4 linked regions of the Homo sapiens genome follow. The protein of the gene in region 1 purifies or fractionates together with the protein of each later gene. This does not show direct contact. Each region holds a gene or a part of one and is shown on either strand. Other genes may lie near its edges.

Region 1 (3,500 bases):
ATGACTTCAAGTTTTTTCTCTTTCCTCTTCTCTCCCCAGGCTCTCTTTAAACTGTGGGGCTCCCCAGACAAGTATCCCAAAGACATCCTGACATACACTGAATTAGTGTTGGACTCTCAGGGCCAGCTGGTGGAGATGAACCGACTTCCTGGTGGAAATGAGGTAATAGCTCAGCGGAGCCTAACCCCTGGCTGGAGTCACCCCCTTAAAAATATTTTTGGGCCAGGTGCAGTAGCTCACACCTGTAATCCCAGTGCTTTGGGAGGCCAAGGTGGGTGGATCACTTGAGGTCAGAAGTTCAAGACCAGCCTGGGCTACATGGTGAGAACCTGTCTCTACATAAAATTTTAAAATTAGCTGTGTGTGGTGGTGTGCTCCTATAGTCCCAGCTACTCGAGAGACTGAGGCAGGAGTGATTGCTTAAGCCCAGAAAGTTGAGGCTGCAATGAGCTGTGATTGCACCACTGCACTCTGGCCTGCGCAACAGAGCAAGACCCTGTATCTAAAAAAAATAATAATAACTAAAATAAAATAAAAAGTTTTCCCCCAAAGAAACAAACTCATTTTCCTTGTGCATTCATCCCCTTGCCAGGTGGGCATGGTGGCCTTCAAAATGAGGTTTAAGACCCAGGAGTACCCGGAAGGACGGGATGTGATCGTCATCGGCAATGACATCACCTTTCGCATTGGATCCTTTGGCCCTGGAGAGGACCTTCTGTACCTGCGGGCATCCGAGATGGCCCGGGCAGAGGGCATTCCCAAAATTTACGTGGCAGCCAACAGTGGCGCCCGTATTGGCATGGCAGAGGAGATCAAACACATGTTCCACGTGGCTTGGGTGGACCCAGAAGACCCCCACAAAGTACGTCGTGAAACTGGCGGGGCAGGGTGATTCTGCTCAGCTACTACTGTATTTTCAGTGGGAGTGCTAGCACCTGCAAGAGGTGAAAAAAATCTCACTTATGTATAAAGCACAGATGTACATGTAGTGTATAAACAGGCATACAGTGTATCAGTGATACTAACATTTCACTGTGGCGGGGGGGATGGTGATGAGAAAAAAAAGATCTAAAAAGGCTCCTTAACGGGGATAATGAAAAAAGTCTATAAACCCTGAGCTGATATACACTGAGCGCTCCTGAATGCAGTGTGCACTGAGAATGCAGAGGTGATTGTGTCAACTCCCTGGCCTCATAGCGTTCTTAGAATTATGGCTCACACCTGTCATCCCAGCAACTCAGGAGGCTTGGGTGGGAGGATAGCTTGAAGCCAGGAATTCATGACCAAGCTAGGTAACCTAGGCAGCATAGCCAGACTTCGTCTCTACTAATGAAAAAACTAGGTGAGCATGATGGTGCCTGCCTGTAGTCAGCCTCAGCTACTTGGGAAGTTGAAGTGGGAGGATCACTTGGAGCCCAGGAGTTCAAGGCTGCAGTGAGCCATGATCATCATACCACTGCACTCCAGACTGGGCAACTGAGTGAGACCCCCCATCTCAAAAAAAAAGAAAAATCTTTGGGGAGTTGTATAGATACCAGCTTGCCATAAAAGGCAAGATGAATGAGGGAAGCGCACGCATTCTGTGATGTGAAATGACAGGGGACAGTCATCCTTTCCATTCAGAGCATGCATTCTCGGGGGCGATATTGCCCACTACCCCCAAGAAGACAGAAAAATAATTTTTGGGGTGGCAATAAAATAGTTTTTAACATATATACATATACAGAGTATGTAAATAGTGGTTAAACAGTGTATCTTGAAAATTAAAATTTCATGTTGGGGTGCTGGCAATAAGAAATAAAAATGAGATAGTCCTTAGAGGAGAGCTTAGCTCAAAGCAGAACTTCAGTTTATGGCTGTTATTAATACGGTATTTACATGAGATGTGTTAATGTGTCATTGACATGTTACTAACATGTTATTAACATCCATCCCTACGATGTTCACATTAAGAAAAAAAAAACAGTGGCTTTCAGTGCAGGGAACTGGATTCGTAGCCTCACTAAAGTATTTTTTAAGGGATTTAAATACCTGTACCTGACTCCCCAAGACTACACCAGAATCAGCTCCCTGAACTCCGTCCACTGTAAACACATCGAGGAAGGAGGAGAGTCCAGGTAAATAACTTATCAGGTAGCTCCTTAATTTTGCTCATGGTTAATTTCAGCTGTCTTCTTTCCTCGGGGCTTGTGGCGATATTTTCCAGTGGGGTGGTGGTGTTTGTATGATGGGAACCAATGCCTGTTGGGGGCACTGATGCCTTAAACATTTGTTAAACTCTCCAAGGTGAGTCCATCCTTGTCATTCTAAAATGAGTGACTCCTTTCACAAAAAATAGCACGTCATGTAGGGAGAATGAGATTGGATTCTCGTGAATCTCCTAGGAGCCGCAGGCTCACATTTTGTGACCAAACTGATGCAGCGGTGACTTGGCAAACTGGGAAGGTATGGGTGGGGCAGAGAGAGGTCTGTTCTTCGAGAGCATTCAAAGGCTACTATCTTTTCCAGGACAAGTTATGTTTTTCTCAGTGGGATTAACTGACTCAGGATTTCCTAGACTGGGTTTTTTGCAATGTTAGTGACAAGCTGGGGGGAAATTCCATAGTCAGATGAGTTTGGGAAACACTGGGTTAAATGAGATCTCATAAACATCTTTATTGCAGACCTTCTTAGTACCTGTAGCATGCTGTATTAGTCAGCGTTCTCCAGAGGGACAGGACTAGTAGGATATATGTATATATGAAAGGGACTTTATTAAGGAGAATTGACTCACATGATCATAAGGTGAAGTCCCATGATAGGCTGTCTGCAAGCTGAGGAGCAAGGAAGCCAGTAGTGGCTCGGTCTGAGTCTAAAAGCCTCAAAAGTAGGGAAGCCAATAGTGCAGCCTTCAGTGGCCAAAGGCCTGAGGGCCCCTGGCAAACCACTGGCGTGAGTCCAAGAGTCCAAAGGCCGAAGAACCTGGAGTCTGATGTTTGAGGGCAGGAAGCTTCCAGCATGTGAGAAAGATGAAAGCCAGAAGACTCAGCAAGGCAGCTTACTCCACCTTCTTTCACCTGCTTTTTCTAGCCGCGCTGGCAGCTGGATGACTGGATGGTGCGCACCCACATTGAGGATGGGTCTTCCTCTCCCAGTCCACTGACTCAAATGTTAATCTCCTCTAGCAACACCCTCAAAGACACACCCAGAAACAGTACTTTGCATCCTAAAGTTGACACTTAATATTAACCATCACACATGCTAAAGTGCATTGTGAATCTCTAACAGAGGCTGGCGGGACAGTGTTTCTCATTATGTGGCCCTGGAATTTTTGATTGATTGATTGTGAATGGGTTTCCTCTGTGTACCCCCATCTCTCTGTAGACCGTTGGAGGAATATGGGCCGAGGGTGATATTTCACTGAGACAGCCCCTGAACAGGCAGATATCTTTGGTTGTATAAACCAAAAAGTATCTGAGACAGGTCTCAATCAATTGAGAAGTTTATTTTGCCAAGGTTAG
Region 2 (3,500 bases), about 47 Mb from region 1:
AATGGAAAACCCTTCCTGAATGGGGAAGATCTGAGGCTAAATCTGGATCCTGGGACTCTCATTCTTGCCCACCACCATCTCCCTGTGGCTGTCATTCTTCCCTGGAAGTGAATGAATACTGAGAACACAGTAAGAGGAGGGTGGTCACAGCTGACTTCACAAAGCCTCATGGAGGTTAAGTTGTTCAAGAATTTAAAAAGTAAACACCCCAAATCCTCCAAAATGGAATACTGTGGAAAATAACTGAAATTTCCACTGCTTAAGGCTTCATCCTATTAAGACAGCTGAGTACTTGGCCTGGCCCGATTTTCACCTTTCCTTTTACACCTCAAGAACAGCAGATAGGTATGCATAACCACAGCAGAACACACCCTCCACCTCTCTGACTGCTGACACTGGCTACAGGAATAAGGCTTTGGTTATCATCTAGCAAAATGCCACAGAGCATGGACGGACTGAGTTTGTTCTAAGGAAAGGAGTTTCACCAGATAGTCTGAAGAGGCCCAGCCCAGCAAAGAGATTTAGAGCAGGAAAGCCTTTCATTAAAGTAGCCACACACCCCTCGAGACAACCATAAAGACTTGACTAGGAAATCAAAAGGTTTTTATTAAACAAGACTTCCTCTGAGGCTATTCGAGCAAGCAGATTTGGCTATAAGTCAGATACGCAAGATTTCTGAACCATGTATAAATACGTTCTGCAGAATTTCGAAGTGTGCGTCCTTTGACTTTTCCAGGGATGCACCAGGGGCCAACCCGTTATGTAGACACGGTTACTGTTTTAGGACTGGGTGACATGGGGCCTGGGTAAAAAAATAAGGCCAAAACTGAGTAAGCTCAATTTATAGAGCAATATCAGTGCTGGACAGATCTGCCATGCTTCGTTTACATCATGTTTCCTACTTTTGATTTCTTCATCTTATTTATAGTCTTCCTCCCATCCCCTGAACACAAACTTGACTTTATCTTCTAACTAAGATCTTTCCACTCAAGGGGGCGTAGGAAAACAATTCCTGGATGCCTTTCTAACTAAAACCAGCAGGACTAAGTGCTCAAGATTTTATAATATTTCGATTTAGAGGTTTCTAGAGTTATTCCTGAGACGTGCCATAGCAGTAAATGAATTGGTGAATTGAGTAGAAGGTAGTTGTGACATCTACACCCAAATTCTTACTCTGGTGGCTTGAATAAAACTGGAGAAGCTCAAGGTAGGGCCCAGATAGAGGCCCAGGAAAGCAAATAAATGAAAGACGGTGGGGACACAGGAAGGATCCCAAAGACGGCAGCTCAGGGTCCTCCACGGAAGACTTGCTCAGGTTTCCTACTTACACATGACTCTGAGTGCCAGGGCAGAACAGGGAGTGGACCACACTGCTGTCACATGCCCGAAGGTTTTCCTACAGCATCAGACTCTGCCACGAAGCAAAGCATTTTCCACAAACTTCTCTCCATAGAGATATCTGGGGTAGCTAAGATCTACTGCAGGAGGAAGAAACGTGCTGCAGATGAAGACAACTCCTGACAAGGCCGAAGTCCCATTCTTCCCAGGCCAACACTTGCACAAACACCTGGTGGCGTGAATTCCCACAGTATTTCACCTGCCAGACGGCACTGTCTCCACACCCTGGAATGAGTTCTTTCCTGAGCAGGAGGGGCTCCAGGCCTTTTCGAATACAATACCGACAACTCCAGAAATGCAGGTGATTTACTGCCCTGGAGGAGAGGTTCCTATCCTCTCCTCTGGGAAGAAATTCAAACAAATATGAGAACTGGAATTAGCTCTCTAGCATGCTGGGGGGGTCACGTCAGTGACCTTTTTTCCTTTTTGGGTCAGAAGAGTGTTTTAATTACTCAAAGTTGTCAAAATGGTGGCAATACCTCAGTAGCTCAGCAGGAAGAAGACTAGGTAATTTTGTGGCCGTACAAGTCTGCCTAAGAGACAGAAGTGAGTTTTATAATCTACTTGGCCATTCCTCCCAGCAGAGAAGCAGCAGGTAGATATGGCATGCACTGTGCCTGCTGCTGCTGCTCTTGTGGCGAACACTCAGATGTGGAACCATAGAGGGACCTTGAGGAGCTGGGACATGATTCTTTAGAGAAGAGAAGAGACAGGGAGCACAGCATGAGAATGGCCAGTCAACCCATTTCAAATTCTTTTATTAAAGTGCCCCCCGAGGGGCCTTGCACAAAGATGATGGGGAGAGCAGAACTGCTGCTCCTTGACAGAACTCTGATCCTTACACTTTGTTTGGAGTGGGCTTGGGGACAGTCACAAGCCATGAAACATGAATCCAAAATGGTCCCCAGATGAGCCATGGTGAACCAACAGATGCAAGCAACTTCTTAAACTGCTCTATTAAACACTGCTTTATATGTGTCCCCATGATACAGAAAAGTGGGATGGGGCCAGCCATTCCAGAAATGAAAATCCAGACTCTCACAGAGAACCCTTGAGCCACACAGGAAGACCACTGAAGACAACAGAGGAACTACTGGTCCACAGAAACACTCAGTTTCATGAAAACACACTGATTCGGTTAGAAAATGCAACTTGGGAACAAACATTACACAACAAAGACCCTCTGTCATGCAGGGCACTGGCCCGGATGCTGCCTGGGCTGTGTGGGCTGGAGGAGGTGGGGACAACCCAGCCTGGGTGGGACTTGGACACAGAACTTCCTTAGCAGGGTGTTGGAAAGTCCCAGGCCTGTTCTGTGGAAGGGGAATAAAAAACAGATTCAAGGAATGTCAAAAACACGAAAAAAAAAAAAAAAAATCCCTGCCTCACTCCACCACTGCCATAAAAGAATAGAAACAGAGAAGAAAAAAAGAGAAGGGGGGCGGGGGGCAGACGGCAATCCCTGAAATAAACCTCAGGCTTCCTAGAAGGTGGGCACTTACTTACATTTTGAGGCATGACCCCCTACTTTCCAATGCAGCACTTTTTAACCCGTAGATAAGCTGGCAGCTTGACAGGCTGAAGAGTCCTCTGCCATTTACACCTGAAAATGGCTGCCCCAGCTACTCTAGATAAAATAAATATGACATATATACCCCAAATAGTCAATGGCCACCTCGGAGGCCTATGAAAGGAACTGAAATACAACAACACTTGGTAGCAGCCTTTGTGTTTTGCTCTTGTTGAGTTGACCTGTTACTAAAGAAGAAATGGAAACCAAAGGGTCATCTTGAAGCATAGTCTTTTGGCCATGAACTCCCCGCTTGGGCTGGGAAGAGACTGCATCACTTGGAACTCAGCTGGGGCACTTCCCAGTTCCGTCCTGCCAAGAGGCATCCCAGCTTTCTTCCCCTCTGTCCTCCCAATCCCCTGGGCCATTTTCATGACAGCTTGTTTCCATGTATTAAAGGAATGACATATACAGAAATGTCGTCTCCTGAGCCCAGTCGGTCATTAGATATCCGCCATCCTCTGTCCTTCAGCACACCCCGGGCACGCATCACCAGGTCCTGAGCTGCCAGTGTGTACCTACACAGGAGAAC
Region 3 (2,223 bases), on another chromosome or scaffold:
TATCATAATGTTGAAGCATTTTAAACATAAACATCCATGACATCTGTGAATTAAAGCATTCTGTAAATTTAGTTGAGTCCTTTAAGTAATATGGTACAAATTGCTTCAACTTGCACTACCATATGCCATCGGTTCCCAAACTCTGCTGAACTTTGGAATCATCTAGGGATCTTTTAAAAAACTAATGCCTGATTCCCATCCATAGACATTCTGATCCCCACTCCCAGGTATGAGAACAGCTTGACCATTTAGAATTTCAGAAGCTCCCCAGGTGATTCTAATGTGCAGCAGAGTTTGGCAGGCACTGCTGTGCACATTTGAATGTTATTACATTCAATCTTATTTTGGTTGCTCAAAACTTCAATCATACATTTTGATGGCAACTTTTCAAATGTCCCCAAAGCATGTCATTTTAGTAATTGCAGTATAAATGAAACAAGACAGTCTATTCATCTTATGGCTTCTCTTGTCCTTGCACACTTTAGTTTCTCACACGTATCTTGGGAGCTCGGTCTCTTGGCTATTTCAAGTCCTGAAGGAGACCTATGGGCTTAGAAATTGAGTTGAACAGGCCAGGTGCGGTGGCTCATGCCTGCAATTCCAGCACTTTGGGAGGCCAAGGCAGATGGATCATGAGGTCAGGGGCTCAAGACTAGCCTGGCCAACATGTTGTAAACCCCGTCTCTACTAAAAATACAAAAATTAGCCCGGTGTGGTGGTGCACATCTATAATCCCAGTTACCCGGGAGCCTGAGGCAGGAGAATTGCTTGAACCCAGGAGGCGGAGGTTGTAGTGAGCCAAGATCGCAACATTGCACTCCAGGCTGGGCAGCAAGAGCAAGACTCTATCTCAAAAAAAAACAAAACAAAACAAAACAAAAAAAACAGAAAAGAAATTGAATTGAAAAAATACTAACCATCATTTCAAGTGGCTGCCCAGCCAACACTGTATGGTAGAATTAGCACTTCTCAAAAGCACAGCCAAGGTGAGAATTCTACAGCTGCGAAAAAATATTTGGGATACAAATATAAAGCTGAGTGATATTTTTTAAAAGGATGTATGTGCACATAATAAAATCTAAATTTATCCCAGTGGTAAAAAAAACCTGGCTGAAGTCAGTTTAAAAGTTTTGTCCCTTGAGTTAAGGATTCAAGAGCTGCAAAAGTGCCGGTCAAAAAAATGTTGGTTAACTGGAATCTGAATAACAGTAATACTCATCTACAAGACAGCATTAACCACACCTGGAACAAGTTAAGAAGAAGCCCTCTGAGAGTTGAGGCCTCGGCCGGTGCACCTGCGGCTCACTTTCCCGCTCCTCCTCCATCCTCAGCATGCTCCCTAATGCTCCAAATCCTAACCTAGGATGCTTAGATTTCTGTGTCACCAAAGCAGGATAGAAGTGTGCCCAGGAGATTTTTTTTTTTCCTGAAGTAAGAAAGTAAATTAAAGTTTGGTTAAGTTTTGAACAAGTCCCTTTTAACAAAAAAACTGATTGGTGATTAACAGAAATCCAATTAACCAGAGCACTCCAATGGTAGAGTTCTCAGGATTGGGCTTTATAGACGTTAGACATTTAAAAACAACATTGGTTATTTGTTGATTATGCCTTAAAGCTGGCAGAGGGACAAATGCAAACTAATAATTAAAGATAAATATCTCAGTTTTTAAAAGGACAAAAAATTTGGAGAGATAAAAAAATAAAAATGTCTTGTTGCATTGGTTCCTTAGTGTGAATTGCCTCTGCTTTCAATAAACTTTAAATGCAAATCTGTTTTATATCTTAGAACTAACTTAGGAAAATAACTGAATAAGTAGTTGTATTAATCCATTCTCACACTGCTATAAAGAAATACCTGAGGCTGGGCATGGTGGCTCACGCCTGCAATCCCAGCACTTTGGGAGTCCAAGGCAGGCAGATCACCTGAGATTAGGAGTTTGAGACCAGCCTGGCCAACATGGTAAAATCCTGTCTCCACTAAAAATATACAAATTAGCCAGGTGTGGTGGTGTGTGCCTATAATCCCAGCTACTAGGAAGGCTGAGACAGGAGGATTGCTTCAACCTGGGAGGAGGAGGTTGCAGTGAGCCGAGATTCAGCCACTGGACTCCAGCCTGGGTGACAGAGCAAGGCTCTGTCTCAGAAAAAAAAAAAAAAAAAAGATTAATCCTAGTTGTCCTGGAGGACTTGGAGCCACTGTCTGTTGGACTTACTTCACCCATAC
Region 4 (3,500 bases), on another chromosome or scaffold:
CCCACGAGGGCTGATGAATGGGTAGGTTATCGGCAGGCTCCTAGGCCACCAGCTTAGAGGTCACATTGTCCCTTTTAGATTCAGTGTGGCGGGAATCTAAAAGGTCAAGGATCGAGAAGCCTGCAGGATGGCAACGTGAGGGAACCTGGCAGTGCGACCTCAGGAATCCACTCCCGGAACTCTGACTGGGGTGCCTGTGGAGGCTCTGAAGGTACAGCAGCCAGGCGCTCTGTGGCATTCTGAATACTGGCACGCAGCCTTCGGCCTCTGCCAGCTTTTGTGAGCTGCCCTGCACCAGGCAGAGGGGGCCCCCAGGCCTGGCACAGGGTCTGACACATGGCAAATGCTACAGAAATAGCTGTGGACCGCCTGACTGCAAGATCGTATTGAACATCTGGTGCCGGGCCTCAGCCTGTGCTGCTGCAGCCAGGAGCAAATACGGGGAAGTCTGGCTAAGGAGAACGCGTGCCTGTGTGGGCCCCAAGGATCCATCTCCAGATCAGGAGGAACAAGCCCGATGACCTTGACAGGCAGCTCAGGAGGTTTCTGGCTCCTGCCCCAGAGGCCCAAGATGAGGACGTGGCAACATAGGGAGGCCCAGGGAATGATGAGCTCAGGGAGAGGTGGCCAGACCACCTGAGACACCTGTTAAAGTGCACTTTCCCATGCCCAGAACTGCGAGCTCCTGAGACCAGTTGCAGAAACCAGCATGTTTTACTGGCTCCCAGGCGGTTCTGATGGAGGATGTCCCAGGAGGGGACTCTGAGATGGGCTATTTGTAATCTACGGCAACTGCCTCACAACAGAGTGTGTTCGTGGAGAAGAGGAAACTGGGCACCGAGGGCTCAGAAGCAGATGGCAGATAATCAGGAATATGTGAAAAATTATGGCACCTCCATATATAATAAAATATTACAGACATTTCTAAGGGAAAAGGTAGGCTTCTGAGAAATGACACAGAGATTGCCTATGACATTAAGTGTACAAAACCAGGGAACGTTAACAGTACACACAGAACAAGCAATCACATCTTGTGACATACATGTTACAAACATACACATGTATAACATATATCCCTGTGTGCATATGTGCACAACTGATGGCTGGCAGATGGATCCCTAATCCATTGTCATCTGTTAGCCCTGAGCAGGTGGGAGAAAAGGGCAGGATGTTCTGGCCCTGAATTACATGCTCTGTATCCTTTTTTCTTTTCATGATAAGCACATGTTATGATTTACTATTATCCTATTTCATATTTGATGATATGAAAATTATTTTCCTTTCTCTAAGTATAACAGTATTATGGTTATACTTCAAAAGAGGCAATATTTTTCAGAGACAGTGATCGGAAAATGGAACCATCTGGGATTTGCTTCGAAACAATTCAGAGATGGGGGAGTGGGTGAGGATGAGAGGAACAAGACTATGTGAGTGGGAAACGGGGGGAGCTGCTGTTTTATTCCCTGCTCTTGGAATGTTGAAGAATTTAAAAAATGCTTTTAAAAAGATAGTTTCATTTTTGGAAAAGTAGGAAACAGCCTTAGGGGGAGATAAAGACTTGAAAAGCCCAGGCTCTCGGCAGAGAAGACAGCGGGGATAGGGGTGGGAGGGCTGGAGCCAGGCGTGAAGAGCTTGCTGGGCTCTGCCAGGATTGTTCTGGATCCTCTCCACCCAAACTAAAAGTCCTCCAACCCTCCAGGTTAAAAATGGGGGTTACAAGAGCTCTGCCACACAAATGGAGGGTTCCTGCTGCATTCATCAAGAAAAAAAAAAAAGTTGCTGCAAGACCCTCCCCCACCCACCCACACCTATCCGTCAAGCATCTAAGACAGAGGTCTCAGGACTAACAAGCTGATCATAAAAATGCCCCAGGATCCCACTTTGTTTGTGAACCACTGGTTCACAAAAGAGAACACACCCATGTTTATGTCAATGGCAATTTTGCAAAGCATGTTTCACAGGAAAGTTCAGATGTTTTGACTCACCAGGGAATTTCAAAATGCTTACCATGATCCGAGGTAAATGCAATGATGGTGCTGTTGGCCAGCTGAAGATCGTCCAAAGCACTCAAGAGGCGGCCGACCTGTGTATCCAAATATGACACAGAGGCAAAGTAGCTCTGGCGGATTTTCCGCTGCAAATTGAAAAAAAATAAAAATGAGAGTGACTGCAATTTAAATTGCCAAGGCATACAGAGATAATGCTTGCCTGTGCATCTCTCCCAATCCCTACCCCTTAGTTGATGCCCTTAATGATTTTCTCAGCCAAAATGTAACACTCCTTTCCCTACCATCAGCATCACTTCACCCACAGAGTCACAGCAAAATCTGTAGGTCTACAAATAAGATACATTTCTAAGCAAATCAGATTTCACTTTAGGGCACAGATCACAGTGGATGAATGTGTCACCTACTGCTCTGTTGTTTTAAGCTGAAATGTATTGTCTCCTAGCTCTGGAGGCTAGAAGTCCAAGATCAAGGTGCTGGGAGGGCCATTCTCTCCCTGAAGGCTCTAAGTAGAAGAATCTTGCCTCTCCCTAGCTGGTGGTGGTGGCTGTCAGTCCCTGGCATTCCTCAGCTTGCAGCTGTATCACTGTGTCTCCATCTTCATGTGTTCTTCCCGTGTCTCTCTCCCCTCTTCTTAAAGGACACCGATCATATTGGATTAGGAGCCCACCTTACTCCAATATGACCTGATCTTAACTAATTACATCTGCAATAAACCTATTTCCAAATATGGTTACATTCAGCAGTACTGGGGGGTTAGGATGTCAACAGCCCTTTTCAGGGAAAAAAAAATTCATAATTTAACACATAACAGCAACCCTGACTGAGCCTTTCCCTCTGATCACTTGCTAACCCAACAGCAGATTACAACTGCATATCTTCATGAACTATGGCCGTTACGTGGAGCTCATTTCTAACAAACTGTCAGCAGGCAGGAGAAGAGCAAAGGAGATACCAGAGAGCAGCACGTCCTTCACAGTCCCTGAACCCAAGAGGCACTTTGGGAACAGCCAGATCATGCCCTGAAGTAAATGAGCCACCGGCCCCTCCTGGGCTGACTCTCATTCCCAACCTGGTTCACAAATGCTAAGGACAAAAATTAATCTTCCACCCCAAAGAGGGGTGAGAAGAGAGCCGTGTCTTCGCAGACCAGCCCCTGACTTATCAGCTGGACCCACCAGCTTCTTCTCATCACTGCCAGGGTGAGGACAATCATGAGACTCACCCGTTCTCACTTGCAGTCAAGAGAAAAGATATACATCTAGCCTTCCAGCAGGATTATGCTGAGCCCTGGCCTACTTATACTTTCTGGTAGATGAAGTCTTCAGTCTGAAACCTGTGGAACTTTGGTCCTCCTGGGGATGAAAGACACCTGTCAGGATGGCTATGTCCTATACAAAGGTATTCCCTCCTTCCTATGCTAGCCCCTGGACGTAAGGCAATAAGCAGACAAGGTCCTCACCCTTGATGAGCCACCCCATCCAGTGAGGACAC

The links. Proteins that work in one complex are often made in the same cells at the same time.
Region 2: the proteins of ACACB (region 1) and PPM1H purify together in Homo sapiens (co-immunoprecipitation; one study listed by IntAct). This does not show direct contact.
Region 3: the proteins of ACACB (region 1) and GRK7 purify together in Homo sapiens (affinity purification with mass spectrometry; one large-scale study listed by BioGRID and IntAct). This does not show direct contact.
Region 4: the proteins of ACACB (region 1) and IDS purify together in Homo sapiens (affinity purification with mass spectrometry; one large-scale study listed by BioGRID and IntAct). This does not show direct contact.

The regions. Positions count from the first base shown.
Region 1 is NC_000012.12:109,245,587-109,249,086, forward strand, and holds part of ACACB (acetyl-CoA carboxylase 2), read left to right. Parts: intron 1-39; coding exon 40-162; intron 163-592; coding exon 593-862; intron 863-2,019; coding exon 2,020-2,117; intron 2,118-3,500. UniProt on the Homo sapiens protein: Mitochondrial enzyme that catalyzes the carboxylation of acetyl-CoA to malonyl-CoA and plays a central role in fatty acid metabolism.
Region 2 is NC_000012.12:62,645,151-62,648,650, forward strand, and holds part of PPM1H (protein phosphatase 1H), read right to left. Parts: intron 3,487-3,500; coding exon 3,339-3,486; 3' UTR 1-3,338. UniProt on the Homo sapiens protein: Dephosphorylates CDKN1B at 'Thr-187', thus removing a signal for proteasomal degradation.
Region 3 is NC_000003.12:141,817,630-141,819,852, forward strand, and holds the end of GRK7 (rhodopsin kinase GRK7), read left to right. Parts: 3' UTR 1-1,723; downstream 1,724-2,223. UniProt on the Homo sapiens protein: Retina-specific kinase involved in the shutoff of the photoresponse and adaptation to changing light conditions via cone opsin phosphorylation, including rhodopsin (RHO).
Region 4 is NC_000023.11:149,488,307-149,491,806, forward strand, and holds part of IDS (iduronate 2-sulfatase isoform a preproprotein), read right to left. Parts: intron 3,362-3,500; exon of another isoform or gene 3,232-3,361; intron 2,135-3,231; coding exon 2,008-2,134; intron 1-2,007. UniProt on the Homo sapiens protein: Lysosomal enzyme involved in the degradation pathway of dermatan sulfate and heparan sulfate.